5 linked regions of the Homo sapiens genome follow. The protein of the gene in region 1 purifies or fractionates together with the protein of each later gene. This does not show direct contact. Each region holds a gene or a part of one and is shown in the gene's direction. Other genes may lie near its edges. The genes, in order: FAM83A, IQSEC1, VWA8, MCCC1 and OBI1.

Region 1 (6,698 bases):
TGGTGGGCACCTGTAATCCCAGCTACTCTGGAGACTGAGGCAGAGAATTGCTTTAACCCAGGAGGCAGAGGCTGCGATGAGCCGAGATCACGCCACTGCACTCCAGCCTGGGCGACAGAGCAAGGCTGCGTCTCAAAAAAAAATTTTAAAAGAAAAGAAAAAAAAAGCTAAAGCATGAGATGCGCGGGTGTGCAGGTGTGGCGGGGCTCTGGGGCGGGGCACAGTGCAATCGGGGACACAGGTGCTGGGGACCTGAGGAGTTGCCAGGAAGTCTTTGGACTTGTTCTTTGGACTTGTTCTTGTTCTGTTGAGCAAAGCAGCAGCTATGTTGCCCCATGCAGCCTGATTCAGACAACAGAGGGCGACTGGCTTCTGAGTGCAGTGCGGCCCTTTGTCCCTGCGCTTGCCTCCTGTCCCGTGGCGGGGCTGGCGCTTGGCTCGGCATCAACTGCTCACCTCTCTGGGGGTGTGGGTGGTTCCCGGCGGGAGGTGAGATTTAAACAAAGCCTCATTGCTGTTCCCAGGATTATCCGAGCCTTGTGCGGCCCCGCCCTGCCTCACAGAGCAGGGAACTCCCAACCCTGGGCTGAGGCCAGGCCTTTGGGTGGCAAGACAGGTGGGCTGGGGGCTGGGGGCTGCGATCCTATCTTTGACGGGCCCGTTTCTGCTTAGCTCTGGCGCTGTCCCGGCTCGGCGACCATTCCCCCGACCATCCTCTCCCTCTTGCTTCAAGTTCACCTGAGCAGGAGCCCAGGAGCCTCTAGCCTGCTGCTCTCGGGAGGTCTATGCTGTTACCAGAGTTTCAAGCATTGAGGGGGCGGGGGGAGAAACGAAAGGAGTTTTCCATCGGAAACAGAAAAGAGTTGGGGTTAAATCTGGGAAACAGGCCGGGCGCGGTGGCTCACGCCTGTAATCCCAGCACTTTGGGAGGCCGAGGCGGGCGGATCACGAGGTCAGGGGTTCGAGACCAGCCTGGCCAACATGGTGAACCCCTGTCTCTACTAAAAATACAAAAATTAGCTGGGCGTGGTGGCGGGCGCCTGTAATCCCAGCTACTTGGGAGGTTGAGGCAGAATAATCGTTTGAACCTGAGAGGCGGAGGTTGCAGTGGGACGAGATCGCACCATTGCACTCCAGCCTAGGTGACAGAGTAAGACTCTCAAAAAAAAAAAAAAAAATCTGGGAATCATACAAAGTAATAACTGCCTTAGGCATTTTGTTTTTCCCTAAAACCTGTAAGTGGTGGCCCCAGGCCTCTCCTTGAGGGTGTCTTCCACCACCCCTCGCCCCGACAGCCTCGGCCCCGTGTCTGGGTGCTTCCTCCATAAACCACTCCTGTCAGCGTCAACGGGAGGCGCACGGTGCTCCTCCTCCACTCATCCCTGCTGGGTCCCTGTGCCTGAAAATGGAGCCGAATCCTCTTTCAGGAACGCTTTAGATTTTCGTGAAAACACAGTCCGGCTTCCCAAGAGCAGCCGCCTTTTGCAGGGGCTTTCCCGACCCCTGTGTGGTTAAAGGCGCGCTGGCCCTCCACATTCCACAGGTGGAGACGAGAAGGCCCCGGCTGCTGGGTGACTACCCTAAGCGCAGACTCTGGGGGCCTGAGACTCAGCTCCCTTCTGCCTCCTCAGGGAGCCTCTAAGGGGCTGCAATCTGAGCACCAGGAGGGAGCCTTGAGACCAGGGATTCGCTCTGGCATCTTAATTATTCACCCGCAAACACATTCTGGCCCCTGAGCCTCAGTTTTGTCGTCTGTAAGAGAGGTGTCGCAATGTCTCTCTCTCAGGGTTTCTGCCAGGATGAAATGAGCCCAAGAGGAGGGGCAGTGGGCATGGGTTGGTCCCCTTCCGTCCCTGCCCCGAGGGGACCCACAACTCCCAGACTGGTCCCCCAGGAGGATCTTGGGGCCTGGGCCGGCGAAGCCTCCTATCTGTCCTCCTCCTCCTCCTCTTCCTCCTCTTCTTCCTCCTCCCCCTCCCCTCCTTTTCCTCCTCCTCCCCTTCCCACTTCCCTTCCCCCTCCCCTCCTCCTCTTCCTCTTCCCCCTCCCACTTCCCCTCTCCCTCCTTCTCCTTCCTCCACCTCCTCCCTCCCTCTTCCTCCCCTCCCCCTCCTCCTCCACTTCCCCTCCCCATCCTTCCCCCTTCTCCTCCATCACTCTCTCTCCTCTTCCCCTCCAGCTTCACCTGGCTCTGCGGACACGTGCACCGGAACATCCTCTCCAAGTTCACAGGCCAGGCGGTGGAGCTGTTTGACGAGGAGTTCCGCCACCTCTACGCCTCCTCCAAGCCTGTGATGGGCCTGAAGTCCCCGCGGCTGGTCGCCCCCGTCCCGCCCGGAGCAGCCCCGGCCAATGGCCGCCTTAGCAGCAGCAGTGGCTCCGCCAGTGACCGCACGTCCTCCAACCCCTTCAGCGGCCGCTCGGCAGGCAGCCACCCCGGTACCCGAAGTGTGTCCGCGTCTTCAGGGCCCTGTAGCCCCGCGGCCCCACACCCGCCTCCACCGCCCCGGTTCCAGCCCCACCAAGGCCCTTGGGGAGCCCCGAGTCCCCAGGCCCACCTCTCCCCGCGGCCCCACGACGGCCCGCCCGCCGCTGTCTACAGCAACCTGGGGGCCTACAGGCCCACGCGGCTGCAGCTGGAGCAGCTGGGCCTGGTGCCGAGGCTGACTCCAACCTGGAGGCCCTTCCTGCAGGCCTCCCCTCACTTCTGAAGGTCCCATCCCCTGCTGCCCTCCGCAGGCCCAGGGCTGGGCACTCCCTGAGACCCAAAGACCCACCTCAACGACGAGTGGCGTTGAGCCACTTCCCTTTGAAAAGACACTCAAAATCACTGCCATGGTTCAATGTTCCCAGGCCCCAGGCCATCCACTTGCCGGCCCCCACCAGTTCTTGGGTTCCCCGCTCTAGTTTGACCTGTGCAGCACATTCCAGAAGGTTCCAGGGAGGTTGTGGGGCAGCTAGAGGACAAAATCATGAAAACAGAGTCCCTGTCTTCCAGAGATCATCCGGGGCTTTAATATTAATGGCCCCCAAAACTCCGTAAGAAGCAGGAAATGCAGCCCAAGTTTTACAAATGGGTAAACAGAGGCACTGAGAGATAGATGGTAGTTTGGTACTTCTGGTTCCCAGTGCCCAGGAATGGTCCACTCCCAAGAAATTCAGGAAAGAAAGACTGAGGAGAAGGTGTGGGAACATTCTGGATGTTTCGGGAGAGTTGGGGAAACTCCTCCTCTTAGGAAAGGCTAATACTAGGGTATCCTTGGGCCCAATGAATTAGGGGTGAGGCCCCAGAACCCGTTATCTATGAGTTGTATGGGGGAGCCATCTGAAGCTGTAGCCACCAGGGATGCAGCTAGCTGAGGAGTTTGGGGTGTTGGGTTGGACAAGGCAGGTTAGTAGACTCAGATTCTTGCTTCAAAGAGCCTTGGGCTGGCCTGGAGGTCCCTGGAGTCTAGACTGGACCTAGGAGCTTGAGTTGTCAGGGGCCAGGACTGGCCCCACTGCAGTGCCCAGGCCAGTCTTGAGCAGCAGGGAGGGCTCAGCTGTCCCCAGATCCAGGTGCCTCTGACCAGCCTGGTCACCTCCTGAGGAATAAATGCTGAACCTCACAAGCCCCATCATTCATTTCTTCTCAATTCACAGTGCCCCTCTTTGTTTCTGGGGTGGAACTAGGTCCTGAGGGCACAGCCTAGCTGAGTGCAAAGAAATATAGGATGCTTAGAAAGCATACAGGAGGGGCCAGGCGTGGTGGCTCATGCCTGTAATCCCAGAACTTTGGGATGCCAAGGTGGTTGGATTACCTGAGATCAGGTGGATTACCTGGTCTCGAGACCAGCCTGACCAATATGGTGAAACCCCGTCTCTACTAAAAATACAAAAATTAGGCTGAGACAGGAGAATTGCTTGAACCCAGGAAGCAGAGGTTGCAATGAGCTGAGATTGCATCACTGCACTCCAGCATGGGCAACAAAGCAAGACTCCGTCACAGAAAAAAAAAAAAAAAAGAGAGAGAGCATAGAGGAGGGTTGGCCAGCCCTGTGGTGGGTGGGATGTCAGAGACACTTCCCAGATAAAGTAAGAGTTAACCCTGCACCTCAGGTGTGATAGTGGGGTCAGTGGTATGTGATCCAGGCTGGGGAGCCAGAGGGGAGCAGGTGCCAACTCCACATCCTTCTCCTGTTTCTAGGCCCTCTCCTCCCTTGTCGGTTTTTGGCGGGGAAGCTCAGCCTTCGCTGTGGAGGGACGAGAGCACAGAGCTCTTCCTCCTGGTGGCCTCTGACCCCTGACGGCCTGTGGCATCCTCCCTAGTCCCCTCTGCCCATCCATCCCTCTGTTCCAATTCTCCACTGCTCCCAGCATGATCTGGGGCATCTTGGCTTCTGGTTTCTTTTATTATTATTATTATTATTAATTATTGTATTCCTGTCCTTCACTTTTTTCCTCCTTAGTTCCTGAAAGTAAACAAAACAAAACAAAAACAAAAAAACAAACAACACTTTGGTTCCTGATGGCTTTCTGAACCCAGCCCTGACCTTGTTGTTTCACAGCTGACGGCTGAGATGAGGTTAGAATGACTGGGCCCGGCTGAACATTCCAAATTGGATTTCACCATCTGCTGAGAAAGTTTAAGGAAGGCAAAGCTTGCCAGGTCACAGAAGCTCCCAAGCCCAGCTTTCCAAAGGCCTCAGCCTGTGCCTGTGTCGAGCTCAGTCCTGGGAGATAGGGGAGAACCTGCAGGCAGGAACAAGCCCCCCTACTCCTGACCACCCTCCATCAGCAGTCTCCCCTCCGTGGTCGTCTTTGTTGACAAAGGTGCAGTTTCTCCTCTCCTGGGCACCTGTAACATGTGATGCGCTGCCTGCTGGGAGGTTAGGTCGGGGCTGCCCCGGCGAGTGGAGCATGAGCAGAACCGCCGAGGGTCACTTCTGGGCAGAAGCTTTGAGAGCCTGGGTCCAGGTTGCCACATAGAAGCAGCTCTCCAGTTGAAACCCTCCTCTGCCAGCCTGGGGTCCTAAGCGATGAGCAGAATCCCCCACTCCCACCCCACCAACCCACAATGGATATGTAGTGAGCAAGAAATAAACCTTTGTTGTTTAAGCCACTGCGATTTGGGGATTGTTTCTTCCTGCACCATGATCTAGCTTTGCCCGAGTGATACAGCCTCTGAGACCCCCCAACTCCAGGCTAGGCCATTGCTCTGGATTCCCAAGACCCCCCGACACATACACTATTTCCACCACAGGATTAGGGGTGGTTTGACACACCTGGCAATTGTCTATCTGAAAGCTAGAAGAAGTCTTTATCCAACTTTCAAATCCTACAAAACCGGGTCACGTTCCATCTTTAATTCTGCTCTGGGTTATAATCACACCTGTACCTCCCTCACTGCGGCCTGCTTGCTAGAGTGTCACTCCGTGTCTTTAAACATATGGAGTCTCTACTACAGTGTGAATTTCAACAGCTGCAGCTTAGCATCTCTTATGTGCCAGGCACTGTGTCAGCTCCGGAGAGGGCTGGGAGGGACCTTCATGTGAACAGCCACCATGAAGAACATGAGAGAATGAAGAAATACTATGATCTTCATGTCCTGGGGTACCTCACCTAAGGTCAAACACATCCCCCAAACCAGGGACTTTGGATCATAGGACCTATCTACAGGACAGTCAGCCAACATGGACTGAGGTGTGGGTTGCTAATGATCAACGCTGCTCCTCAGAGCCCCTGTCTCCTAGGAATGATCTGTTACCTGCACTTGGTCCTCATCAGATACTGCTCTCCTGTCTCTCCATTTACATCATAAGAGCCCAGAGACCAAAGGTATCTCTCTGGACCCACAGGTCCAGAGCTACATTGGTGCCACAGACAGTCCAAGGGCACAGTCAGTCCTCCCTGGTTGAACACTGGTGAGGAGCTTTGCTCCTACAGGGGAGACGAATAATCAGATACCCCAGACCACCTTCACTCTCTGTCCCTCCAGAATGTAGGGGAGGAAGGGCTGCCTCGCCTTCACTTAGTCTTCGTGCTGACCCTGCTAGCCTGTCATGAAAATGTCAAAGCAGCTTCTTCAAATAATTCACTTTTTTTTTTTTGAGACAGTCTTACTCTGTCGCCCAGGCTGGAGTGGCGCGATCTTAGCTCACTGCAACCACTACCTCCCAGGTTCAAGCGATTCTCCTGCCTCAGCCTCCCAAGTAGCTGGGATTACAGGCGCCCGCCGCCACATCGACTAATTTTTGTATTTTTTGTAGAGATGGGGTTTTGCCATGTTGGCCAGGCTGGTCTCAAACTCGCGACCTCAGGTGATCCACCCACCTCAGCCTCCCAAAGTGCTGGGGTTACAGGCGTGAGCCACTGTGTCCGGCCCAAATATTTCACTTTCTGAACTTGATCCAAAAAGCCGGTGGACACAGAGAAACTGTCACTCACTTTCCTAGCTTCCTCTTGAAGAGTGTCTCTGTGTTGGAACTGTTATTAGAGGATGTAAATACTGCAGACACACGTGCAAACATAAACACAACCTCCTCTTGCTGTTGTTCACTGTATTTCGTTTGACCCAGGCATTGCTTCCTAGGGCGCTCCATCCTTCTTTCCTCTGTAGCGTGTGGTGAAGGAGAGCATGAAACCATGATGCAGCACACGGGGCGGATGGAGAGACGCGGCGCAGACGACGGCGGCGCGCCGGGGAGGCTGAAGTCCAC
Region 2 (6,284 bases), on another chromosome or scaffold:
GGTTGTGTGCCATCCTGTTTTCCAGGGAAGTGCCTTGCTCAGGGTCACAGCCAGTGAGTCTGCCTGACTCCAGACCCTGCTCCTCCCCAGCCAGATCTGTGTGCCCTTGTGGGTGGGGCCAGTGGGCACCCAGTGCACAGAGATGGGATGAGGAAGGGAAGGAGGGTGGTCAGGGGGCCCAGGTGTTGGGGGACCTGACGCCTTACCCTGAGCAGGTTCCAGATCTCTTGGCCGCAAGGCTCTGTCCCTCCCCACCCCTTCCCCACTGCATGCACTACCTGGAATGTGTTGGTCACTGCCACTGTGGCATGGCTGCCCCCAGCCTGCTTGTCCTGGGTGCTGAGGGTACTTGTCCCACAGTGGCTGGGAGCCCCCCACCCAATGCCTGTGGACCAGACCAGTTTTGTCACCACCAGTGGGGGCTTAGGAGGCGTTGCTCCTGGGTGCTGGCTAAGCTGCTCCCAGGCTTACCTTAGAGCCTGCTGCTTTCCCCCAAAAGCCTACTGACGACACAGCCCCCGTCTGCCCTTCCCGCTCTTTCCAGCCTGTTGGATGGCTCCTGTTCTCTCAAATCTCACTCTTACCCCCAGGAGGCTCCCTGCAGGCAGAGTGGATGAAAATATCCTGCCCCTTGGTCTCTGAGGCCCTGGCCCACCTGGGGCCTTACAGAGCAGGACAAGGAGGCTCCACTCCAGCTCTGTCCCTGCCTCACTATGTGACCCTGGGCAGGCTGCTTGCCCTCTCTGGGCCTCTGACCTCATCTGGAAAGTTCCTGGTTATGCTGCGACACACAGGGGACTGGGAGTGGGAGGAGTGGTGTCTGCCAGGCACAGCAGCTCCAGGCATGCTGGCTCATTCACATGGCCCCATCCTGCCGATCACTCACCCATTCATTCACTCAGCCCACCATGGTCACTGGACATCTAGTCCACGTCCTGACACACGCCAGGCCTGTGGGCTACGCCTGTAAATGGACCAGGCCCGCCCTGCCTGCATGGAGCTACCGCCCAGAGAAGGGACACAGTAAATAAGACCTGGTGGCACCTGCCAGAGCGGCTCCTGGATACAGCTGGGAAGAGAACGGGGTGGGGCAGTGGGCGCCCCTTCCTGCACACACCCCTCTCTCCTCAGCCGCTCTGGGGCCTGAGGCCCTCTCTCCTGGTCCTCCTGGCCTCCCACGATCCCACAACGTTCCAACTCCTGCCCAGCCCTGCCTGGAAGGCTCACCCTGCCACACTCTTGCCCATGCTGGCTCCTCTGCCGGGAGTGCCCTTCTTCCCCTTCACCTCAGACCTCACAGCCCAGCCTGTGCCTCTTTCCTGACTCCCCCAGGCAAATGGGCCCCCTCATAGAGCTCCCGCATGGCGCGTGGCGAGTCCTCGCTGTGACAGACACAGTGCCGGCCCCTCTGTTGTCACCAGCTGCCCGGAAGTCCTGCCTTTGCTTTCTAGCATCCCTGAGGGGCCTGGCCTGACAAGGTACAAATCACCATTTTTAAAATTGTGGTAAGATAGACAGAAAACTTCCTTTTTTAAAGCTGAACACTGTTGCGTTGTGCAGATCGACCACATGTTTGCCTTTTTTAATTACACACATTTCAGCGGCAGTAAGTGCATTCACAGTGCCGTGCAGCCAACACAGCATCCATCTCCAGAACTTCACTTTCCCAAACAGGGCTCTGTGCTCTGTAAGCGCAGACTCCCATCTTGCATCCCCAGCCCCTGGCACCCACCATTCTGCTCTCTGTCCCTGTGAATATGACTGCCCTGGGGATGTCATGTGAGTGGAATCAGACAGCATTTGTCCTTTCCTGACTGGCTTACTTCACTTAGCCTCATGTCCTCAAGGTTCATCCCTGCTGCGGCAATGGGCAGAACTTCCTTTTTAAAGCTGAACACTGTTCCATTGTGCGGATGGACCACATTTTGTTTGTCCATTCACCCATTGATGGACACTGGGTTGTTTCTGCCTTTTGGCTGTTGTGAATAGTGCTGCTGTGAACATGGGTGTGCAAATACCTCTCCGAGTCCCTGGTTCCATTTCTGTTGGGTGTATACTCAGAAGTGGGATTGCTGGGTCAGATTGTGATTGGATGCTGACTGTTTTGAAGAGCCGCCATACTGTTTTCCACAGCAGCTGCACTGCTTTACCTTCCCTCCACCACTGCACAAAGGTCCTGGTTTCTCCACATCTTCGCCATCACTCATTACTTTCTGTTTTTCTTTAATAATAGCCATCCTAATGGTGTGAAGTGGTATCTTGTGTTTTTAAATTTCCCCCTCTTGAATAAAAGTGTGAGTGATGAAGTTTAGCTTACAAAAGGGATGGTTACGTCTTTGTTGTTTTTCAAATATAGTCATATAACTGAGAGATTATTCATCCACATGGTACAAAAAAAGGCTGCACATATTGTCTATTTGGTTCCCTTGCTTCTTGTTCTTCTGCCCAGAGGCCACGGCTGTGTCCAGTTCCTTTGGGTCCTTGGTGAATTTCTGTGCATTTATATGTGTGCTTCATCATTGAAGTGCTCCCTCAGCAAGCTGGTGACACAGAGCAGTTTAGTTTTCCCACCACTGTTTTGTGGTTTCTGGATTTGAGCCAATGAAACGCTCAACTTGGGGGATGTGTGACCAGCCGGCCCCTGCAGGAGGTGGTGGTCTCCTTCCATGGGAAGCCCTGGCCAGCTGCTTGCAGTGGGGCCTCCATGAAGGAAGCCAAGCCCTGTGTGTCTTCCCCAGGCAGGAGAAGGGAGGCTGGTGGGACTGGGCCTGAACATTCCAAGATGAACACCCCCACACATCTCCAGGAAGCCTATGCGTCAAGCCTTCATCATTGTCACCTTAGCTGGCTCTCCGTCCAGGTCAGTCCTGGGCACAGTTATCAGCATCTCTTTGACAGTGGGCCCCAGATTCAGGCAGAGCTGCCAGAGGGCATGTGGGAGCAGGGCCAGCCTAGGTTGTGCAGGACAGGCCCCCACACCAAGAATCCACACAGATATTTATGGGCATGAAAATCTGCGAGCAACTATCCGAGTCTGGTCCTCACTCCTCTTGACATCTAAACCACAAAATGCATTTTGTATGATTTGAATATGCATTGAGTTTTCCAGGAATGCAACTGCTCTCGCAGTCGAGGGAAGATCAGACTCTGATATGTTCGGAGCTCAGCCAAGAGCTGCCACCATTCAGAGCACCACATCACCAAGGACAGCATCTCTCATGGTGCCAGAGTGCCCAGTGAACTCCAGCATCCATCTGGGTTTGTGGTCGCTGTCACACGACCAGGCAGGTGACTATAGGGTAGGCCCACCCACGATTAACATGACAAATTACCGTTTATTTTATTCTAAATTATTTTCCTCTTTTTTTTTCTCTGTAATTTTACCATTCAGCCATTCTCTTGGTTCTGTTTTAAATATGTGTGTGGATGGATCACATGAGTCATCAGCTTCATTTGAGAAGAGAGAAGAGGATAGTGCAAAGCTCTGGATTTAAGGAGCGGGGTGCTGGACAAGGGATCTTTGTGGTAATGGAGCTATTGTGTATTTTGACTGTGGTGGCACTTGTATGTGCCTGTATGTGTGTGCATGCGTGTGTTTAGTTCTATGCAGGCGTATCATGTATGCAGGCTCCACGGTACAAGCAAAATCGGAAAGCTACCTAAGATGGGAGGACAGTGCAGTGTCAGAATCCTGGTAGTGATGGATCCTATAGTTTTGTAAGATGTTACCATTGGGGGAAACGATGTATATAAGATCTCTCTGTATTGTTTTTTGTTTTTTTTTTTTTTACAACTGCAAATGAATCTACGATTATCTCAAAATAAAAAGTTTAATTTTTAAAAGGTGAGGGTGGGTATCAGGTCTGACAGGCTGAGATCCCTGGTAATTGAGGACAGCAGACAGCCAGTGACCTCCCAGTCTCAGTTCCTTGGTGGTGCACCATGGTCACCAACCTCTACTGCCCTCCACTCCCTGACACCTGAGACACCTTGGGCCCTTCTCTCCAAGGCTGCATCCCACCAGGGGCACTGGGGCCGGCCCCTCACCCCAGAAAGGAAACACAAGTCCCTTTTGCTGCCAGCTGGGGCCTGGCTGGCCCCCAGGGGTTCTGAGTTTCAGACCCTGCTCTGCCAGCAGGCAGTGGTTTCAGCTGGCTGATGGAGCAGAGGTCTTATCCATTGTCCCCCAATGCCTCCCAGAACCGGGGCCCCAGCCCCAGCCCAGGCCTCTTCTCAGGTGGGCCTTCCTGCTCCCCTGGGCTTGCAGAACAGCCCTGCTGACGGCCACTCCTGCCCTCCTCTGCCCTGTGCCCGCAGCATTCCTGATGACACAGTCACCATGCTTGTCTGTGCCTCCTGCCACCACAGTGGGCAGCTGGGACAGAGACAAATAACATTCCATCAAATGCCATTTTGAAGACAAAAATGGACCAGTCAACTAAAGCTAAAAGGTTAAGGGAAGGAAGCAAGTACTTTTTATGACTTTGTCATTCTACAAATTGACTGTTCTATGAATTAGCTTTCAGTGAATTGACTTGTCACTGGTTGAAGGAAAGCTGGGACATGGCTGGTGAGGTTGTGGGCAGGACTAGGGCAGTGAACAGGGCAGTGGGGAAGCCAGGCTGGGCGTGGTGTCGGCTCTCTGAGGGGCCAGGCTTTGCCCACTAGACTGCCCAGCCCAGGAGTCCCGGCTCTCCCTCCCCTGTGCATCCCATTTCCTGAGCATGAGCTTGGGATATCAGGGCTCTGAGGAGCTGGGGCTGCGCCAGAGATGCCCGTCCCCCTTTATATCCCATGGCGTGACCTTGCCACACTGGCCCGACCTCCGAAGGATGAAGGTCCTGTCAGAGCAACCCCTGTGGCTCAGCAGGCGGCTGACCTGAGCGTGGCTAATAGAAAAATGTTTTATTGGCACCGATGGCTTCATCCCTCATCAAGATGTCCCTGACATCTGCTTGGCATGGTTACTAAGGGAAGTGATGCATCTTAAATCACCAGGGCCCTGGCTGAAATTCACTGCCTGTATCTTAAGGCTCTCATTGGCCCCACGATAACACCGAGCGTTTTCCTCCCATTTGCTCTCCACCATCAGATAAAAGAGAAATGCCCTCAAGTCTCTCCAACCCCCTTCCTTGTTCGGGTGTCTGTCCCCTGGCCATCTCTGGGCTGCAGAGAGGTCAGGCCACCTCAGAGGAGCTCTCCAAGACCAGGTGAGCTCAGCAGATGTGGGGTCCAAGATCTGGGGGTAATCAAGACCTTTCTCTGTGCCTCCCCTGCCAGGACCCCACCCCTCTCCAAGGAGCTGCTCAGATGGAACTCCTTATGTGCTGCCCAGTGTCTGTGTGACTTGGGGCAGAAGACAACCTCTCTGAACCTATTTCCTTTTCTGTAAAATGAGGCTAATAATTCCAGCTTTGCAGGGTGGCCATCAGGACAGAATGAGGTAATAAGGCCTGTGGTATCTCTGTGACCTATAGAGATTATTCCTGTCCCCTTCCTCCCCTGGATTCTCACGGCACAGGGCTGGGCTTCAGGACGTGCTAGGACTTAAGAAATGTGAACATCTGGGAAGGGAAGGGAAGGGAAGGGAAGCTGGGCTGTAATGGTGTATCCATCAGGAGCCTTTGGGTGGCAAACGGCAGAAACTCAAGTCAAAGGGATTTCCGTGATTACTGTCAGTGAATAGCCCACGATCTGGCTTCAGTGTGGCTGGCTCCAGGGGCTCCAATGCTCCTGTGGCCATGTCCTGTTCACCTTTCCCCAGGACACGTTCCTGTGTGGAGGCTTCAGCCCCCTCAGCAGCCTCAGTCCCCCTGGTCAGCCCTGGGACTCATGGCCATTCCTGAAACCATCTCCATCCCCAAGAGGAGCCATGTGCTGACTGGCCAGCCTCTTTGTCACTTGGCCACACCTGTAGCTGGAGCATGAGGTCAGCCCCCCGAACCACTGGGCTGGGAATTAGGGGAATTCAAATGTGTGTGTTTGTTGGGACGGGGGTAAACCAAGTCTAGAAACAGGCCACAGGCTTTGCTTGGAGTTAGAGGAGAGCCTGGCAGTTTGGGGCAAGTCTGGACGGAGCTGGCAGCCTCAGTAGTGTGCAGAGGCCCAGGGCAGCCAGATCCCTGGCTTAGGCACCAGGGAGGCCAGCCCAGCACCCCCACCGGACGGCTGGCCCCTGGCATCAGCACAGGGCCTGGAGTCATGGGCTCGGTATGTTAGGGGCTCTGTGGACCTTGGTGGGGGCTGGGGACTGCATGTGCTAGGTAAGTCCTGGGACCCCTGAT
Region 3 (6,284 bases), on another chromosome or scaffold:
CACTGTTTTTATCATTTGCAGAGTAATGTTATCCTGTTGTTAGATACTACTGGCCGGGCCCTTCATCGTCTCATCCTCCCTTCCGAGAAGTTTACATCTAAGAAACCTTTCTGGTGGAACAAAGAAGAAGCTGTAAGAAACACCACATTTGTCCCACAAATTGCCAAGGATTTCTATAGCTTTCTAACCAGAAAGATGCATGCATGCCCATCCCTTTAAGTGCCTTTTTTGTTGTAATGCACAAGAGAATTTCCTGTTATGCACGTATAGATTTTAACATGATATATATAACCATAGATATGTGTATAATTAAATATCAATAAATTCTTTTTATGACATTATACTTGCATGAAGATTTGCCAGGACTGGACTAACAATAAGAGAAAATTAAAAACTATTTGAATATCGTATTTTTAACAAATTTCTGATCATGGAGTCAATTTAACCTGTTTTCCAGTTATGTAGTTATGTTTTGGATTTATATGATGAAACTGTGAGTATGATACCTAATTTCCTCCATTAGACAAATAAGTGTTTTAGTTTATTAACTAAATTAAACTAGTAAGTAAATAGTTTAGGCCAACACAAGAGAATTTATTCTGCCATTCAGAAAAAAATAATGGATTTAAAATAAGGTTTACCCTCTGCCCTGCAAGTCAACATACTTAGGTCTTAAAAGACTATGAAAAGAGTGATTTTTTTTAATGTCATAAATGTATCCTAATATAAGAAACAAAGTGTTTCCCATGTGTTTATTTTATGGTGTAAATTCCATGGTTAATCATCAGATAGCCTGTTATTTCTTAACAATGTTTGGTGTTGTTTTTAAAAATTTATTCTGAAGAGGCTTTAGTACAAAGTTCACAGTAAATTTTGATATATAGTTTAATCCATTTTACCATAAGAGTCTTAGAGCAGATAAATAGATAGCTTGTTTGAGAATTACATGTTTTACTAGTTGAAGAACTTTATTTTATTTAAGGGGAAGTAGCTAAAGAGGGACATGACTGTATCTGACACATTTAATATGAATATCTTGTTTTGTTTGTCTTTAGGAAACTTATAAAATGTGTAAAGAATTTTCACACAAAAACTGGCTGGTGTTCTACAAAGAAAAAGGGTGAGCTCTTTATTATAGAGGATTTAAACTGGAGTTCTTATTTGGCCCATTCTATTTCCTATTTTGATTATACTTGTTTACTATAAAGTGAATGTAACCAAATTATGAATGTTTTAATATAAAGTAACTTGCCCACATTGCAGAATATTGAGAAACAGATATAAGAAAAGCTAGTGCTCACAATTCCATGACATAGCCACTACTAACATGGCAATGGTTACTACTTTCCATTATTTTTACTTATACACACCCTGACATAGTTTAGAATTTTGCATATCTGTTTTTTTAATTAACATTTTTCTATATTATTACTTAATCTTAAAACATTCTTTTTATGGGTTGCATAATGTATCATGAAATGATTATGCCAGATTACTCAACCATTATCCTCACCATTTCCTTTCAGATACAGTTTTCTTCTTTTCCAGGAACAGCCTGACTGTGCTGGATGTTCTAGAAGGGCGAACTCACACCATCTCACTTCCCATCAACCTCAAGACAGTTTTCCTTGTAGCAGAGGACAAATGGCTTCTGGTGGAGAGCAAAACAAATCAGTGAGTGGCTTTATATAGTGTATCATGGAGTATGTTGTAGCTCAATCTTATTTATGAATTATCCAACATCTTTACTGTTCTGTCTTTCCTGTGTCTGTCCTTTAACAATTTCTGTGTTTGGCAGCATCTCTATATATGAGACTTATAAGAATTGAGGAGGGGAGAAAAAATAAATGTCACTTCTCAGAAAATGACATTGAAATTAACAGTTAAAAAATCATGACTTTTTCATATGATCCATATTTATTTGGGCTTTTTCCTATTTGTACATTGAGAATTCACTGTATTCTTGCTAAACTGGAGACACTTCAAAGTAGATTTTCCCTTCAAAGAGCCACAGTCTCTATCCTAGAGCTGTTGCCTCTTTGTAAATTCACAGAGTTCACACCTTAGAAGTGTCTTTCTCTTTTTATCTTGTGTATTCTGGTTTGGATGTGGTTATGTTTATGTTTATGTTATCTGACCCATTGGACTGTGCAGTTCTTGATGAAAGGCGGTGTCGACTTTGAGCACCTTCCCTCATGCACAACTCCACTAGCTAAGTGCAGACTCTTTCTGCCCCTCTGCTGACAAGCAGAAGTATCTCATTGCAGAGGATTTCTGCCTATATATACATCCATATTTTAGAAATGTTAAAAATAAGTAGATCAAGGAGACTACAGTTGTGAGGGCATCTATCTCCTAGCTGATCACAAATCAGAAGTCATACTCCCCCTTCCTGGCTGATCAAAGAGTTTTATCAAGAGAGGGTTACATGATAATAAGAGTGCACCCCATTAGAGTTGCTTCCCCTCCCCACAACCCTTTCTCTTATAGGAAGCATTGGATTTTTGCCTCACATTCATTACTGTATTGCTGTTGTGCACTGCTCTTTAACACAGTGTTGAGAAGTTATTTGTTAATTCATGATGAAACTCTAAAACTGCAAATTATACTGGAACTATAAAAAAGAGACTGAGGAGAATCTAATTTTTCTTAGTCTGGCCTTATTACTATTAGAAAAAGAAAAATTTCACTTAAGCTAGATGTTTTGTTTGTTTGCAGGAAATATCTTTTAACTAAGCCTGCACACATCGAATCTGAGGGTAGTGGGGTTTGCCAGTTGTATGTGCTGAAAGAGGAGCCGCCCAGCACAGGGTTTGGAGTTACACAAGGTAAATACTATGTCATCTGTGTTTATGGCTGTGTGAGTGCATGCTTGTACATATACTGTCTTCTAGAATCATTTAAGAACAAAACACCAGCCTATGTTAAGTTTACACCAAAAGAAAAAACTTAGTCACTACACCAGAAATAGTAAATAAGAATCTAGTATCTCAAATTGTCATAAGGAAGTTCACTGTTGTAAGCTCTGTCCTTGAATTTTTTTAACTGACAGATCAGTATTTTTATATACATTTAGGTTGCAAGTCTAATTTAGGATAACATCTTTTTTCTGCAGACTATTGGGATTTCTATTTAATTTATCACAGTTTTGGGGGATGAATAGTACTTACGAAAAAAATCTAAAACATACCATTGCCAACCCTTGGTTGGGTCAGTTTTTACATCTTTTCTACAGGGAGCTATTAATTATAATATTTATTCCTAATAAAATTTTGAATTCTGTAAATACTTGAAATCACTTTGGGAAGATGCCTTGATTATAAAAACAGCATTTTTTCAAACAAAAGCCCATGAATGTAATTTAAAATGTTTTCTCTTTTTTAACTTGTTCTTTTCCATTTGACTTGTTGAGAATAAAATCTTGCAAAAAATTAATTCCTGGAGCATTTCAGGAGCATATGGTGTCTAATGTTTGTACTTTTCAGAAACAGAGTTCAGCATACCTCATAAAATTTCCAGTGATCAACTATCATCTGAACATCTAAGTTCAGCTGTGGAACAAAAGATTGCCTCTCCCAACAGAATTCTCTCAGATGAGAAAAATTATGCTACAATAGTTGTTGGTTTTCCAGATCTCATGGTAAGCACCCATTTTTTAAATTATCGGATAAATGTTTCTTTCCCTTAGTTTGACCTATAATCTGTAAGCCTGTTTGAGGGGTAATTAAAAACATAATTTCCTGGTAAACATGTTGGATCAAGTCTTCCTTCCAAATCAGTCAGTAGAAAATATGTTATACCTAAATAGTTTCATTACACTTCAAAAATTAACATTGAAAGCGTAATGCAATGATAGAATTTAGTAGGGGGAAATGAGTATTCTCCATATGTGGGGGTTCATGTAATACAGTTTAAATGCTTAACCTTCTGATGGTAATTTTCTGTCATGTCTTCTATAATTTTTTAAAGTTAATTATTTTTCCATCTACACATTCTATATATTTATTTATTAACTTTTATTTTAGGTTCAAGTGTACGTGTGCAGGTTTGTTATATAGGTAAATTGCATGTCACAGGAGTTTGTTGTACAGATGGTTTGGTCATCCAGATAATAAGCATAGTACCTGATAGGTAGTTTTTTGATCCTCACCCTCCTCCCACTCTCCACCCTCAAGTAGGTGTCAGTATCTGTTGTTCCCTTCTTTGTGTCCGTATGTCCTCGATGTTTCGCTCCCACTTGTGAGAACATGTGATATTTGGTTTTTTGTTCCTGTGTAAAGTTAAATTTGTTGGATTGTCATTATTGTAGATTAAAATTTTCAACAGTCATGAAGATAGATTTATTTTCCATTGAGTTTTGCTCTGATTTATCATATCTTTGCAGCATCCAGGTTATAGTATAATGGCTAATTGTCTCAATTGATTTTCCTCTTAGATGGGCCCTTCTGTTATCTCCTATTACCTATAAAGGAGAAGCTATTTGAATTGACTGTAGGTGAAACTGGGCGACATCTTCCTCTGATGGAAATGTGGGGAAATTAATTATAAAAGTTATTTCAGTCCAAGTTGCCATCTAACAACCTTAGATGTAGCTCCATGTGTTCTGACTAAACATTTAATTTTTATAATTTCCTTTGTAGCTTTTAGATGGGATGATAGAATTATTTAAAGATAAAAATATGGGCTCTGCTTGACGGTACTCCAATTTTGTATGCCTCAACATTTTAATATAGTTAATGAATGCTGGGTACTTCAGGATATAAGATTTGAAATCTAAAACTCAATGGATAATGTGGCTTAGGACTCTGATGTATGTTTTCCTAATTATCAAGTTAAAAGCATCTGCTATCATGTAATTCAAAATGAAACGTTATTGAAATACAGTGTTTATAGCAGCCTTGATATGAAAGAGATGTGTTTTATATGCTTTCTACAATGTTTGCTGCTGTAAAAAAAAAATTGGGACTTTTTCTGGAGATAAAACTATTTTAAAAATTGATCTTCTAATTACCTTCTTCTGATTGAAGAAATCAATATAGAAGTATAATGTTATTATAAAAAGTTAGAAAATAAAAGCTAAGTTAAGGCACTGTTTCTATTAACCTTGTAGAAATTCTTATAGCCTGTAACACTAGTGACCTTGTTAAATTAAAAGCTATATCCCTGCTACTTAGTGTGGTACCTACCACATAGGAGGTATTTAATGAGTATTTGTTAAATAGAAGATTAGAGTCAGCTAGGCAGCCTTTAAGATGACAGTAATACTTTTAGGCCACAACAGAATAGGCAGTGTGCTGCTCTAAGCCCTTTCATACATGATAGTTAATTTTTACAACAATTCTATGAGGTTTTACAAATGAAAAAAATAGAAACAGACAGAGCTTATATCCCCTAGGCCACAAAGATTATAAGCAATGGAATTTGAGCTCAAGTGTGACTAGCCAGCCCTCTAACACACATCCTTTTACCACACCACACTGCCTTCTTGCTTTATGTGAACTTCTTTGGATTATGTATGAAACTATTGACAAATGAGTATGCTACCTCTTATTAACTTTTTCATAGAGTTATCAGTGGCATCTAAATTATTACTTGTATAACTTTTAAAATCTAATACCAAATAGCTATAAGAATCTGTAGCAAATATCATCCTCAATGGTGAAACATCAAAAGTATTTCTTTTCTTTTCTCATTAGAAATAAAACAAGGTTGCCCACTGTTACCATTCTATTAAACATGGTAATAGTGTCTTAGACATGATATATAAAGAGAAAATTGATAAATTGTGCTGCATCAAAATTTAAAATTTGAGCTCTGTTAAAAGACACTGTTAAGAGAATGAAAAGACAATCTACAGGCTGGGAAAAAATATTTGCAAACCACATTTCCAACAAAAACTGGTATCTAGAGTCTATAAAGATTCTTAAAACTTAACAGTCAGAAGGCAAATAGCCTAATTTTACAAATGAGCAAATAGTAGGCCAGTGTGAGTTATCAAAGATCAGAGCCCAAGCAAGGTAAGGACATCTATGGTGGGGAGAGGTAACCACTAGTGATGGACGTTAAGCCCAAACAGGATGAAGATGGCATTCCTGTGAAGGGGCAGCCTGGAATGGGATGTAGGAGCCCAAGTAAGGTGAAGTATGTGTCCCTGTGTGAGTGCAGCCCCTATGGGCTGTCAGAACCCAAGCAGGTAGAGTGGAGCATCTGCCCAGGGAGTAAGGTTAGTGGTGGAGATGGGAGATGGGTCACATACAGTGGACTTGAGCAAGAAAGTAAATATA
Region 4 (5,174 bases), on another chromosome or scaffold:
CCTGTAGGCCTCTGATTTGACCAGTACATTTGGGCTGTAGGCCTCTGATTTGACCAGTACATTTGACCTGTAGGCCTCTGATTTGACCAGTGCATTTGGGCTGTAGGCCTCTGATTTGACCAGTACATTTGGGCTGTAGGCCTCTGATTTGACCAGTACATTTGGGCTGTAGGCCTCTGATTTGACCAGTACATTTGGGCTGTAGGTCTCAGATTTGACCTGTACATTTGGGCTGTAAGCCTCTGATTTGACCAGTGCATTTGACCTGTAGGCCTCTGATTTGACCAGTGCATTTGGGCTGTAGGTCTCAGATTTGACCTGTATATTTGGGCTGTAGGCCTCTGATTTGACCAGTGCATTTGGCAGATGGCACAACCACATGGGCTCTACTTCTGCTCTGTAAGTTTATATACCAAATCTGTGGACCACAAAGGACCTCTGTGTTGTTTTTTTTCTTTTTATTTATGTTTTATTGTTTATATTCATGGTTTGCAACATGATGTTATGAGTATATATAGACAGTAAAATGGTTACTATAATGAAGCAGATGAACATATCTAGGACCTCTGTGTTTTCAAATATTAACCTGTCACACTGAATCTCAAGGTGTTTGTCAAAGCTGGAGACAAAGTGAAAGCGGGAGATTCCCTCATGGTTATGATCGCCATGAAGATGGAGGTAAGGAAATCATGAGTTCATTTGCTATGAGGACTTTGGGAGCAATCATACCTAATGGTTCTTTTGCCTTATTTTGTAAGTTAATACCACCTTAAATATGAAAAGCCATGATTGACGAAGCATTAATTGTAGGAAACAAAACCAAACTATCCTTCTTGTAGAAAAGAGTTTTACTTTAACTTTGTGAAATTGCACCTGTCATTTCTGATTCTGAAATTAATGAAATTATCAATAGCTTGGAATCAGGCGATAATCCAACTGAATGTTAACTGTTGGTATTTTCTAAGATAATCCAACTGAATGTTAACTGTTGGTGTTTCTGGAATGTTAACTGTTGGTATTTTCTAATGTTAACTGTTGGTATTATCTTGGTTCTAAGGCCGAACCAAGGATGCCAGGCATCAGTTTCAAAGTGAAAACCGCAATCAAATTAAATTAGCTGTTTAGGTTTTTAGATGGTTCAAATGGTAGGTCAGTGATTCTTAGCCCTGGCTGAATATTGCAGACAGTCCTCAACTTACAATGGTTCAATTAAGGATTTTTCAGCTTGACAATGGTGCAAAACCATACACGTTGAATATGCTCCTCAGCTTACATTGGATTTATCTGGACCTGACCCCATCGTAAGTCAAGGAGCATGTGTACAGTCACCTGGGGAGATTTGAAAAAATTCTTCCCCAGACCCATTGAATTGCAATCTCCAGGAGTAGAGCCCAAGGATCAATACTTTTGAAAGGCTGGGCGCAGTGGCTCATGCCTGTAATCCCAGCACTTTGGGAGGCAGAGGCAGGCGGATCATTTGAGGTCAGGAGTTCACGACCAGCTTGGCCAACATGGTGAGACCCCATCTCTATTAAAAATACAAAAATTAGCCAGGCATGGTGGTGCATGCCTGTAATCCCAGCTACTCAGGAGGCTGAGGCAGGAGAATTGCTTGAACCTGGGAGGCAGAGGTTGCAGTGAGCCGAGATCTTGCCACTGCACTCCAGCCTGGGTGACAGAGCGAGACTCCGTCTCAATTTAAAAAAACAAACAACAAGGCCAGGCGCAGTGGCTCACGCTTGTAATCCCAGCACTTTGGGAGGCCGAGGTGGGTGGATCATGAGGTCAGGAGTTCAAGACCAGCCTGGCCAACATAGTGAAACCCCGTCTTTACTAAAAATACAAAAATTAGCCAGGTGTGGTGGCACACACCTGTAGTCCCAGTTACTTGGGAGGCTGAGGTGGGAGAACCGCTTGAACCCGGGAGGCAGAGGTTACAGTGAGCTGAGACCATGCCGTTGCACTCCAGCCTGGGTGACAGAGTGAGACTCCGTCTCAACAGCAACAACAACAAAAAACAAAAAAAAAAAAACAAAAGCAAGCAAACAAAAAACTGTTGAAAGCTTCCTAGGTGCAATTCTCATGTGAAGCTCAAGTTGAGAACTGCGAGCTACACCAGAGCTTCCCAGTCATATCGTTGAAAGGTTACTGCTGTGTCCCAGTGTTCATTCCTCTCAACTTGTTACTGTTCTCCCTGTGTGCTGTGATGTTAAAAATAAAAACAACAACAACAACAAAGCGTTGGAAAGCACCGAGAGATGACAAAACATCAAAGTTGGCTACAGTTTTCATTTTTGGTCTCCCTTTCTTGACTTGGTGTATACTCAGTCCTCATTAGTATTGCAGCTATCATTTGTCCTGTCATGTGTCTCTGCAGCATACCATAAAGTCTCCAAAGGATGGCACAGTAAAGAAAGTGTTCTACAGAGAAGGTGCTCAGGCCAACAGACACACTCCTTTAGTCGAGTTTGAGGAGGAAGAATCAGACAAAAGGGAATCGGAATAAACTCCAGCAAGGAAATGGCCAGTTAAGTAGTGTCTTCTCTCTCCACCAAAAAGAGGAAGTGCCTCCAGCTTTTCTGGGGGTCTCATAAAGAGCAGTTTTACTAAATGATTGTATGCTTATGCTGAACACCTTTCATATTGGAGAATCATGCATTTGGGTCACTAATTATCTCAAAATATTTCATACTAATAAAGTTGAATTATTTTTTATTGGAAGCCAATGTTTGTTTCTGCCTCAAATTTTTTACAAGGTAGTCTCTTTTAGGAAGGGGGGAAGAGAAAAGGACATTTAATTAAATGAATTACTTTCCAGTTGCTGTTATGATGAAAATGAGCAGTAATATGTTTCAGAGACAGGTGCCCTGGAGTTCAACAACTAAGGTTTTGTCTGGCCAAAAAGCAACTTGCTAGGTAGTTTAAAAGACATGGATATTAGTCGGGCGCGGTGGCTCACGCCTGTAATCCCAGCACTTTGGGAGGCCAAGGCGGGCAGATCACTTGAGTTCAGGAGTTCGAGACCAGTCTGGCCAATATAGTGAAACCCGTCTCCACAAAAAATAAGCTGGGTGTAGTGGTGAACATCTGTAGTCCCAGCAACTTGGGAGGCTGAGGCAGGAGAATCGCTTGAACCTGGGAGGCAGAGGTTGCAGTAAGTCGAGACCGCACCACTGCACTCTAGCCTGGGTGACAGAGCGAGACTCTATCTCAAAACAAATACATAAATATAAATAAGTAAAGACACGGATATTGTTTCTAGTGTTTGTGATTGGAAAGTTTCTAACTAGATTGCCTCTGCCTTTATTGTACTTTCTAAGCTTATAAAAATATATGTATTATATATCTATTACATGCTAAAATATATTAATATTTAATATAACATTTTGGTAAATTTGAAAAGCATAATTTTACAGAAAAAGTTGGTAAGAGTTAAAAGCCTGAGCCTGCTGAATGCTTTTTTTAGAAATACTTTTTTCATTATGAAGAAAAACCATTCAGTTTACTTTTGTCTAGATTCTGTGTTACTTTTACTAACAGATGTGCAGCCCTTTGCATTTTTATGTATTCATTGAAGTGTTAAATATTTGTTGAATTGAGTTCTTGCTGAATACATAAGACTATGCTAAATGTTGTGGAAAATACAGAGAAATATAAAAGATGGTCTCCGTACTTTAAGATGCCTATAATTGGAAAAGTAAAACATAAATCATGTCTGCTATGATTAGAATGGGTCCCCTATGTTTCACGTGTTAAAAACTTAATCCCCAAGTTCATGTGTTGATTAGAGGTAGGACTTTCGAGAGGTAATTAGGATTGGATATGGTCATCAGGGCGGGGCCCCCATGATGGGACTGGTGGCTTTAAAAGAGGAAGAGAGACCTGAGCTGGCTCGCTCTTGCCCTCTTGCCATGTGATGCCCTCCACCATGTTATGACACAGCAAAAAGGCCCTCACCAGACACCGGCCCCTTGATCTTGAACTTCCCAGACTTCAGAACTGTAAGAAATAAATTAGTTCATAAATTATCCAGTCTGTGATACTCTGTTTCAGCAATGCAACATAGTCTATGACAATGTCGAAAGTTACAGTTTTAGCAAGGGTGCCGTTTCCCCTTTCCAAACAAAACTTTCTCTGTTTAAAAGAGGGAAAAGCAGCCGGGCGCGGTGGCTCACACCTGTAATCCCAGCACTTTGGGAGCTGAGGCAGGCGGATCACAAGGTCAAGAGATGGAGACCATCCTGGCCAACATGGTGAAACCCTGTCTCTACTACATATACAAAGATTAGCTGGGCATGGTGATACGCGCCTGTAGTCCCAGCTACTTGGGAAGCCGAGGCAGGAGAATCGCTTGAACCAGGGAGTCGGAAGTTGCAGTGAGCCGAGATCATGCCATTGCACTCCAGCCTGGTAACAGAGTGAGACTCTGTCTCCAAAAAAAAAAAAAAAAAAATAGAGGGAAAAGCAAAAGGTGCTGTGATGGAAATTTCACATTGCTGTTTGCCCCCTTTCGGAGAATGCTGTTTGTATCCTTCAGTGGAACATGGTTGAGTTCACTGTTTCATTGTTAAGTGACTGTGTTGGGGATATGTGTATTGAAGGAATTCGAAGCCAGCTAGCCCAATTACCCACATATTGGTAGAATTCTTTCTTTAGGATCTTTGCCAGTTCTGGTGCTGTGTGAGCAGAGTTATTTTGCACATGAATGCATCTGTTTGTGCTACAGACACTTACAGAGCATTTGCTCTACACTAGGGCCTCTGGAACAGAGATGGTAAGAAATGATTTCTGCTCTTGCCCTATCTAATGGGAAACAGGATCCAGCTGCATAGAAAAATGTAATATAGGCCGGGCGTGGTGGCTCACGTCTGTAATCCCAGCATTTTGGGAGGCCGAGGCAGGTGGATCACCTGAGGTCAGGAGTTCGAGACCAGCCTGGCCAACATGGTGAAACCCCATCCTTACTAAAATTACTAAAATTAATTGGGCATGGTGGCACATGCCTGTGGTCCCAGCTACTCAGGAGGCTGAGGCAGGAGAATTGCTTGAACCCCAGAGGCAGAGGTTGCAGCGAGCTAAGATTGTGCCACTGCACTCCAGCCTGGGCTATACAGCGAGACTCCATCTCAAAAAAAAAAAAAGGTAATATAATTGACAGTAAGTGGTATAATATA
Region 5 (6,284 bases), on another chromosome or scaffold:
GAAGTCTGGTAGAGGACTGGTTCTCTGCTGTGTTGCATGCTACGGGGTTAACCTCTATCTGTTTTTTTTTACCTGCTGAATTTCACCAAGGAGTCAAGTCTTTTCTTGCAGAATATGAGCTTTGATGATTTGAATATTTTCCCCCAGCTTTTCTTCTCATCCCATATCCTACCTTTATTCATTCATACCTAAGTGATATTTCATAAATTCTCTCAAGGAAAATAGTTCATCCATTTTTGCATTTGGATAGAACATCCTGAAAAAGAACACCTGTAAAATACCTTTGCTATTATTATAATGCTAAAAAATACAAAGAAGGTAACCAGAGCATCAGTGAAGAGCTCTCAGGAAGAATTCATTGTGAGTGCATTTGTAACAAGTCATGACATAGAGTTAATGCCATGACTTACAGTCCATTGTAACTAGCCTGTTAGAATCCGTGAAAAGACACATTAATCTATATACATAGGTATATAGCAGTAATACTTTTTTTTTTTTTGAGACGGAGTCTCGCTTTGTCGCCCAGGCTGGAGTGCAGTGGCGCAATCTCGGCTCACTGCAAGCTCCGCCTCCCGGGTTCATGCCATTCTCCTGCCTTAGCCTCCTGAGTAGCTGGGACTACAGGCGCCAGCCACCACGCCCGGCTAATTTTGTTTGTTTGCATTTTTAGTAGAGACAGGGTTTCACTGTAGCCAGGATGGTCTCTATCTCCTGGCCTCGTGATCCGCCCGCCTCGGCCTCCCAAAGTGCTGGGATTACAGGCGTGAGCCACTGCACCCAGCCAGTAATACATTTTTATATAATCTCTTGGTTAAATGTAAATGTAATAATTGGTTTTATTATTTAAATATAGTCTAGTTTTCAGAATTTGAAGTAGTCCAAATGTGATAATTACAGCCCTTTCCTCCACTGAGTTTGCTGTGATAAGATATGTAGATATGTAAATACAATATGATGTGTTACTGAAGGTATTTCTTATGGTGTTATTTGATATATTTTTTTTTCCTCAAGATTAGGGTAGAGAAAAGGCCTAGATGTAAGCCCCAAGTGTGTATGTAAGGGGAAGGGTAGATGTGAAGCTGGGAAGCTATATAAAACAATATGAAAAAGGATCATTTTCATTCTTCCCGAATCAGAATGAAAAATTAGGATTTTTTTTTTTTTCCCTACAGGAGGAACAAGTGAAAGTGAACCTATGCTAAGCCATACGGTCAGGAAGCATCTTCGGAAAACTAGACTTGAATTACTACACAAAGAATATGAGGTAAACAGTAATCAAAGTTTAAAATTATGTTAGCAGTGAATTCAAGGTAAAAACTGACCTACCTCAGTCCCCAGACTTCTTAGAGTAAATATCCAATGAAATTTTATTTTAAAAGCCTATAAAAAGAAATTGTTTGATAAATTCTTTTTTCTTTTTTCCTTTCGTATTTTAAATAGAGGAAAGAGATTTTTTGTTTTATTTTTTTTCTTTAAGTACCAAGGAATGGGGGAATGGGATTCCAGAAAAAAGGAACAGATGGAAGCATTTCTTTCTTTTTTTTTTTTTTTTAAGTTAAAATTTGTACCTCCACAGACATATCATTTTGTATTTGCTTCCTCAAGAAGTTGGGAGAAAAAGGAAATCTCCTTGTGAAAGCCAGTCTGACCTCTGCAGTCATCAGTTGCTTCTGCCTATGAAGTTACTGATGATTATAAGCCTGATCAATTCTAGTAAAGTAAATACTATACCTTATGTCAACTGCCAGCACAGAGATTTTAGTGTGAAACATGCTGTTTCCTAATTATTGTCTAAAGGTGAATGAACAGGATGATTGGACATGGTGATGCTATTTTTACAAATAAATTCATGCTAATAGAATACATACACTTTTGAATAGTACACATTAAGCCCAGTTGTCATTTTATGTTGACTGAAGAAGGAGATATCGATCCCCTCTTGACTCAAAATATCTTTCAGTTTAACTGTGTACATGGAAGGTGCCTCAACTGCCTCAAAAATTTTTGGAATGCAGTGGGGTATAAATACATGATTGAATATATGTTTATTCATATATGTGTTCCTTACATATATGAATTTGCTTGTTTTATGAAAATGCTATTTAAGTTGAAATGTATTGCAATTTAAAATAGTAAGTAGTACTATCTGTGTGACATTTAATGCTAAAATGTATTTTTATATAATGAATATTTATCATACTCAGATGGTAAACAAATTAATCCTTTGGGAGATCACTTGAGCTACTTGGGGGTTTATTTTCTAGCAGAATTTTTAACAACCTCAATTTAAGGTGACATATTTATTATAGATGAATAAATGGCATCATAGTAAGAAGTTCTAACCCAAATGTTTAGTGACTGGTTTTAGGATAATAAACATTTCCAGAGTGGGAAGGCTAATACTTGCAATAGTCACAGTAGTAATTGAAGAACCAGAATCCAGAAAAGTTGAAAATTCAAAATTAACTACAGATATTATTCTGGAATGAAAAGTAGAAGGAAATGGTAGATGGTTTCACTCATACTTCAAATATAGAAGTGAAAGTATAAATATCAAAACCCTAACAATCCTCTTTTTCTTTTTTGAGACAGAATCTCATTCTGTCACCCAGGCTGGAGTGCAGATGGCATGATCTCGGCTCACTGCAACCTCCGCCTCCTGGGTTCAAGCAATTCTCCTGCCTCAGCCTCTCAAGTAGCTGGGACTGCCGGTGCCTGCCACCACACTCAGCTAATTTTTTGTATTTTTAGTAGAGGCGAGGTTTCATCATGTTGGCCAGGCTAGTCTTGAACTCCTGACCTCAGCTGGCCCACCTGCCTTGGCCTCCCGAAGTGCTGGGATTACAGGCACGATCATCTTGATAACTCTGTACAGTCAGCCCACCATATCCAAGGATTCATCATCTGTGGATTCAAACAACCAAGATTGAAAATTAAAAAAATAAATATATATAAAAATAATGTAGTTTAATAACTATTTGTATGACATTTACTTTGTATTGGTTATTATAAATAATCTAGAGATGACTTAAAATGTATGGAAAGATGTATGTAGGTTATATGCAAATACAGCACTAGTGATTTTCCATCAGGAACTTGAACATCCATGGATTTTGGTATCCCTAAGGGTCCTAGAACCAATCCCCTGTAGATGTGGGGATGAGGTGGGGACAAACTGTACCTTTTTTTTTTTTAACCCGGCCCCCCTCAATGTACTTTCAAATTCCCCTCAGTAAAGCAGTTGAGTATGCCTCAAGTTTTTTGTTTTTTTGTTCTTTTTTGAAATGGAATCTACTTCCCTGTTGGAATTCATGTGACTTTTCTTATTTTCTGGATGATATCTTTTTTTTGTTTGTTTGTTTTGTTTTGTTTTTGTTTTTGTTTTTGTTTTTAATTATACTTTAAGTTTTAGGGTACATGTGCACATTGTGCAGGTTAGTTACCTATGTATACATGTGCCATGCTGGTGCGCTGCACCCACTAACTCGTCATCTAGCATTAGGTATATCTCCCAGTGCTATCCCTCCCCCCTCCCCCCACCCCACAACAGTCCCCAGAGTGTGATATTCCCCTTCCTGTGTCCATGTGATCTCATTGTTCAATTCCCACCTATGAATGAGAATATGCGGTGTTTGGTTTTTTGTTCTTGCGATAGTTTACTGAGAATGTTGATTTCCAATTTCATCCATGTCCCTACAAAGGACATGAACTCATCATTTTTTATGGCTGCATAGTATTCCATGGTGTATATGTGCCACATTTTCTTAATCCAGTCTATCATTGTTGGACATTTGGGTTGGTTCCAAGTCTTTGCTATTGTGAATAATGCCGCAATAAACATACGTGTGCATGTGTCTTTATAGCAGCATGATTTATAGTCCTTTGGGTATATACCCAGTAATGGGATGGCTGGGTCAAATGGTATTCCTAGTTCTAGATCCCTGAGGAATCGCCACACTGACTTCCACGATGGTTGAACTAGTTTACAGTCCCACCAACAGTGTAAAAGTGTTCCTATTTCTCCACCTGGATGATATCTTAAATAGAATCAAAGATTTGGCATTTTTAAAAATCACAACTAACATTGAATTAAAATGAAGGCAACATAAATCCCAATTTTTATCAGTCAGGCCACATTTTGAGAATTTAAACTGTATGTGACTTTCTCCCTGCAAAACTCTTTTGATATGTAAAGAATCTATGTATCTACAGAATTTTAAGTACAAAATTCAAACCATGTTGGCTTCAGTTTAGCATATGTATGTATGTGTTTAGTGTCTATGCCTGCCTCATGACTATGCAATGCTTTTTCAGGACGAAATAGATTGTTTACAGAAAGAAGTAGAAGAGCTTAAGAGTAAAAATCTCAGCTTGGAGTCACAGATCAAAACTATTCTGGATCCTTTAACCTTGGTGCAGGGCAACCAAAATGAAGACAAACATCTAGTCACAGATAATCCAAGTAAAATTAACCCAGAAACTGTAGCAGAGTGGAAGAAAAAACTCAGAACAGCTAATGAAATCTATGAAAAAGTGAAAGATGATGTGGATAAGCTAAAGGAGGTAAGTTGTGGTTTTTAAAAATCTATTATGGTTGTTTTTAAAATAAGTACCTTCAAAAGCATAAATAGCCATATTATCTTGACTCATCATCAGATGATTTGTGAGGAAAGGACAGAATCTCTGGATGAGCATTTATATGCAATAAGAAGACTTTTTCTTATTTAAATATCATTAACTGCCAAGAAATATCAGGTGGTTCCATGTGTGACTATAATTAGAGACTGTTGTGCTTCTGTATAAGATTGCATCTTCTTCTAGAAGAATAATACCAATTTAAAGGATGTGTTTCTGTTTCGTCCTCTTTGTGGTTTGCCATAGGTTTTTTAAGCTTATATCAGCGACTTCCCCTGTGTACCTAAAAACAAACACATAACCATTTTCGCACCAATGAAAGGAAAAGTTTTGACCTTATCTTTTCTTTTGCTACCACTCTCTTATTTTTAAGATTGTAGATAGATAAAGACTTGGTGACTAATTCCAGGACAGCAATAAGCAGCTGCTTCAGAGTACCTCATGCAAAAGAATGTTGTGATTTATGAAACTGGTTCATTTTTTTCAGTTTTTCTTTGAACGAGATACAGCATGGTGAAAAAGGCAAACCTCTAGGATTTTTCGGCCTAGAAAGGGAGATAAGATCCATGCCATCAGCACTAGATGTTACAGGCAACTCCTACAACACCATCTTGACCCAAGTGATCAGCCTTTAGCTTGAGTTCAAGTTTATCCACAGTGGAGTCCTCTTGTGCTGAAAGGAGATGGCTTTGTAGTACTCAGTTCTACAATCACATATTCAACTATTTGCATTTCCTTAAAATACTATTCCTGTGTGAAATTACTAAATCTTATCTCTCAAAATTATTAATGAGCTCCATATGGTATTTTAAAGGAGTTCCCCTGTATATTGGCTCTCAGGTCCTCAGGTTAAGTAGCAGAGAAATACTTGCAACTTAGATGTAAGCCATCTTCCACATATAAAATAAATGTTGTTTGGGCTCAGAAAAGGCCAGGGTGAGGAGAAGAGAGAGCCTAGTGCTTTTAGATAAAAAAGAAACTACAGACATAATTGTACTGAGTTTGTTATAAGTGTGTAGGAGGGAGAAGTGCATAGTTTCTTTGGGTATTGATGACCAGTGTTAGTACCTTGATTTGTTAGAAGACAATAGGATACTAAAAGGAATGCCAACTCGGAAATTACAGTATTTATCAATTTGCCTTGTTCCCTTTAATTTCCCTGGTTCTTCTTGAGCCATTGGTAAGCACTATATGATCTCCTTTGTAGTTATTAAACTTCGTTTAAAGTTTTGGCAGTAAATATTTCTTAGAACATGAGGCTTATAAGGGTGATATGAGGGATGGATATTAAAGAAGAATACATAAAGCACAGTTAATTTTCCTTTGCTCTTTTAATGGTCAAATGTTAAATTCAATACTCAAAGCTACCCTGGGACTTCAGAATTCTTTGGGATATTGAATAAGCCCATTTTCTATGCCTAGTGATGCTAGTAGGTAATAGGTTATAAACTGGGACATAAGTGAATGAAAAAACATGGACTGCAGAGATAAAAACTAAAGTGTGGAGTAATAACATACTCAACATAATCAAATACAGGAATACAAAAGATTCAGAATAAAGGATTACTTAGCATGAATGAAGTGGACTTTTTTTCTGATGTTACCTGGAATGGGTGAGTTTTGAACCATCGTGAGGCCAGTGTCATTAC

The links.
Region 2: the proteins of FAM83A (region 1) and IQSEC1 purify together in Homo sapiens (affinity purification with mass spectrometry; one large-scale study listed by BioGRID and IntAct). This does not show direct contact.
Region 3: the proteins of FAM83A (region 1) and VWA8 purify together in Homo sapiens (affinity purification with mass spectrometry; one large-scale study listed by BioGRID and IntAct). This does not show direct contact.
Region 4: the proteins of FAM83A (region 1) and MCCC1 purify together in Homo sapiens (affinity purification with mass spectrometry; one large-scale study listed by BioGRID and IntAct). This does not show direct contact.
Region 5: the proteins of FAM83A (region 1) and OBI1 purify together in Homo sapiens (affinity purification with mass spectrometry; one large-scale study listed by BioGRID and IntAct). This does not show direct contact.

What each region holds. Positions count from the first base shown.
Region 1 is NC_000008.11:123,204,978-123,211,675, forward strand, and holds the end of FAM83A (protein FAM83A), read left to right. Parts: intron 1-2,179; coding exon 2,180-2,711; 3' UTR 2,712-4,448; coding exon of another isoform or gene 4,449-4,519; 3' UTR 4,520-4,547; coding exon of another isoform or gene 4,548-4,558; 3' UTR 4,559-5,101; downstream 5,102-6,698. UniProt on the Homo sapiens protein: Involved in mitochondrial maintenance during adipogenesis. May be acting by playing a role in the maintenance of normal mitochondrial function.
Region 2 is NC_000003.12:13,061,507-13,067,790, reverse strand, and holds part of IQSEC1 (IQ motif and SEC7 domain-containing protein 1), read left to right. Parts: intron 1-6,284. UniProt on the Homo sapiens protein: Guanine nucleotide exchange factor for ARF1 and ARF6. Guanine nucleotide exchange factor activity is enhanced by lipid binding. Accelerates GTP binding by ARFs of all three classes.
Region 3 is NC_000013.11:41,686,710-41,692,993, reverse strand, and holds part of VWA8 (von Willebrand factor A domain-containing protein 8 isoform a precursor), read left to right. Parts: intron 1-21; coding exon 22-132; intron 133-1,055; coding exon 1,056-1,120; intron 1,121-1,548; coding exon 1,549-1,674; intron 1,675-2,718; coding exon 2,719-2,828; intron 2,829-3,485; coding exon 3,486-3,640; intron 3,641-6,284. UniProt on the Homo sapiens protein: Exhibits ATPase activity in vitro.
Region 4 is NC_000003.12:183,012,770-183,017,943, reverse strand, and holds the end of MCCC1 (methylcrotonoyl-CoA carboxylase subunit alpha, mitochondrial isoform 1 precursor), read left to right. Parts: intron 1-606; coding exon 607-678; intron 679-2,377; coding exon 2,378-2,506; 3' UTR 2,507-2,726; downstream 2,727-5,174.
Region 5 is NC_000013.11:78,637,102-78,643,385, reverse strand, and holds part of OBI1 (ORC ubiquitin ligase 1), read left to right. Parts: exon of another isoform or gene 1-360; intron 361-1,172; coding exon 1,173-1,264; intron 1,265-4,314; coding exon 4,315-4,563; intron 4,564-6,284. UniProt on the Homo sapiens protein: E3 ubiquitin ligase essential for DNA replication origin activation during S phase.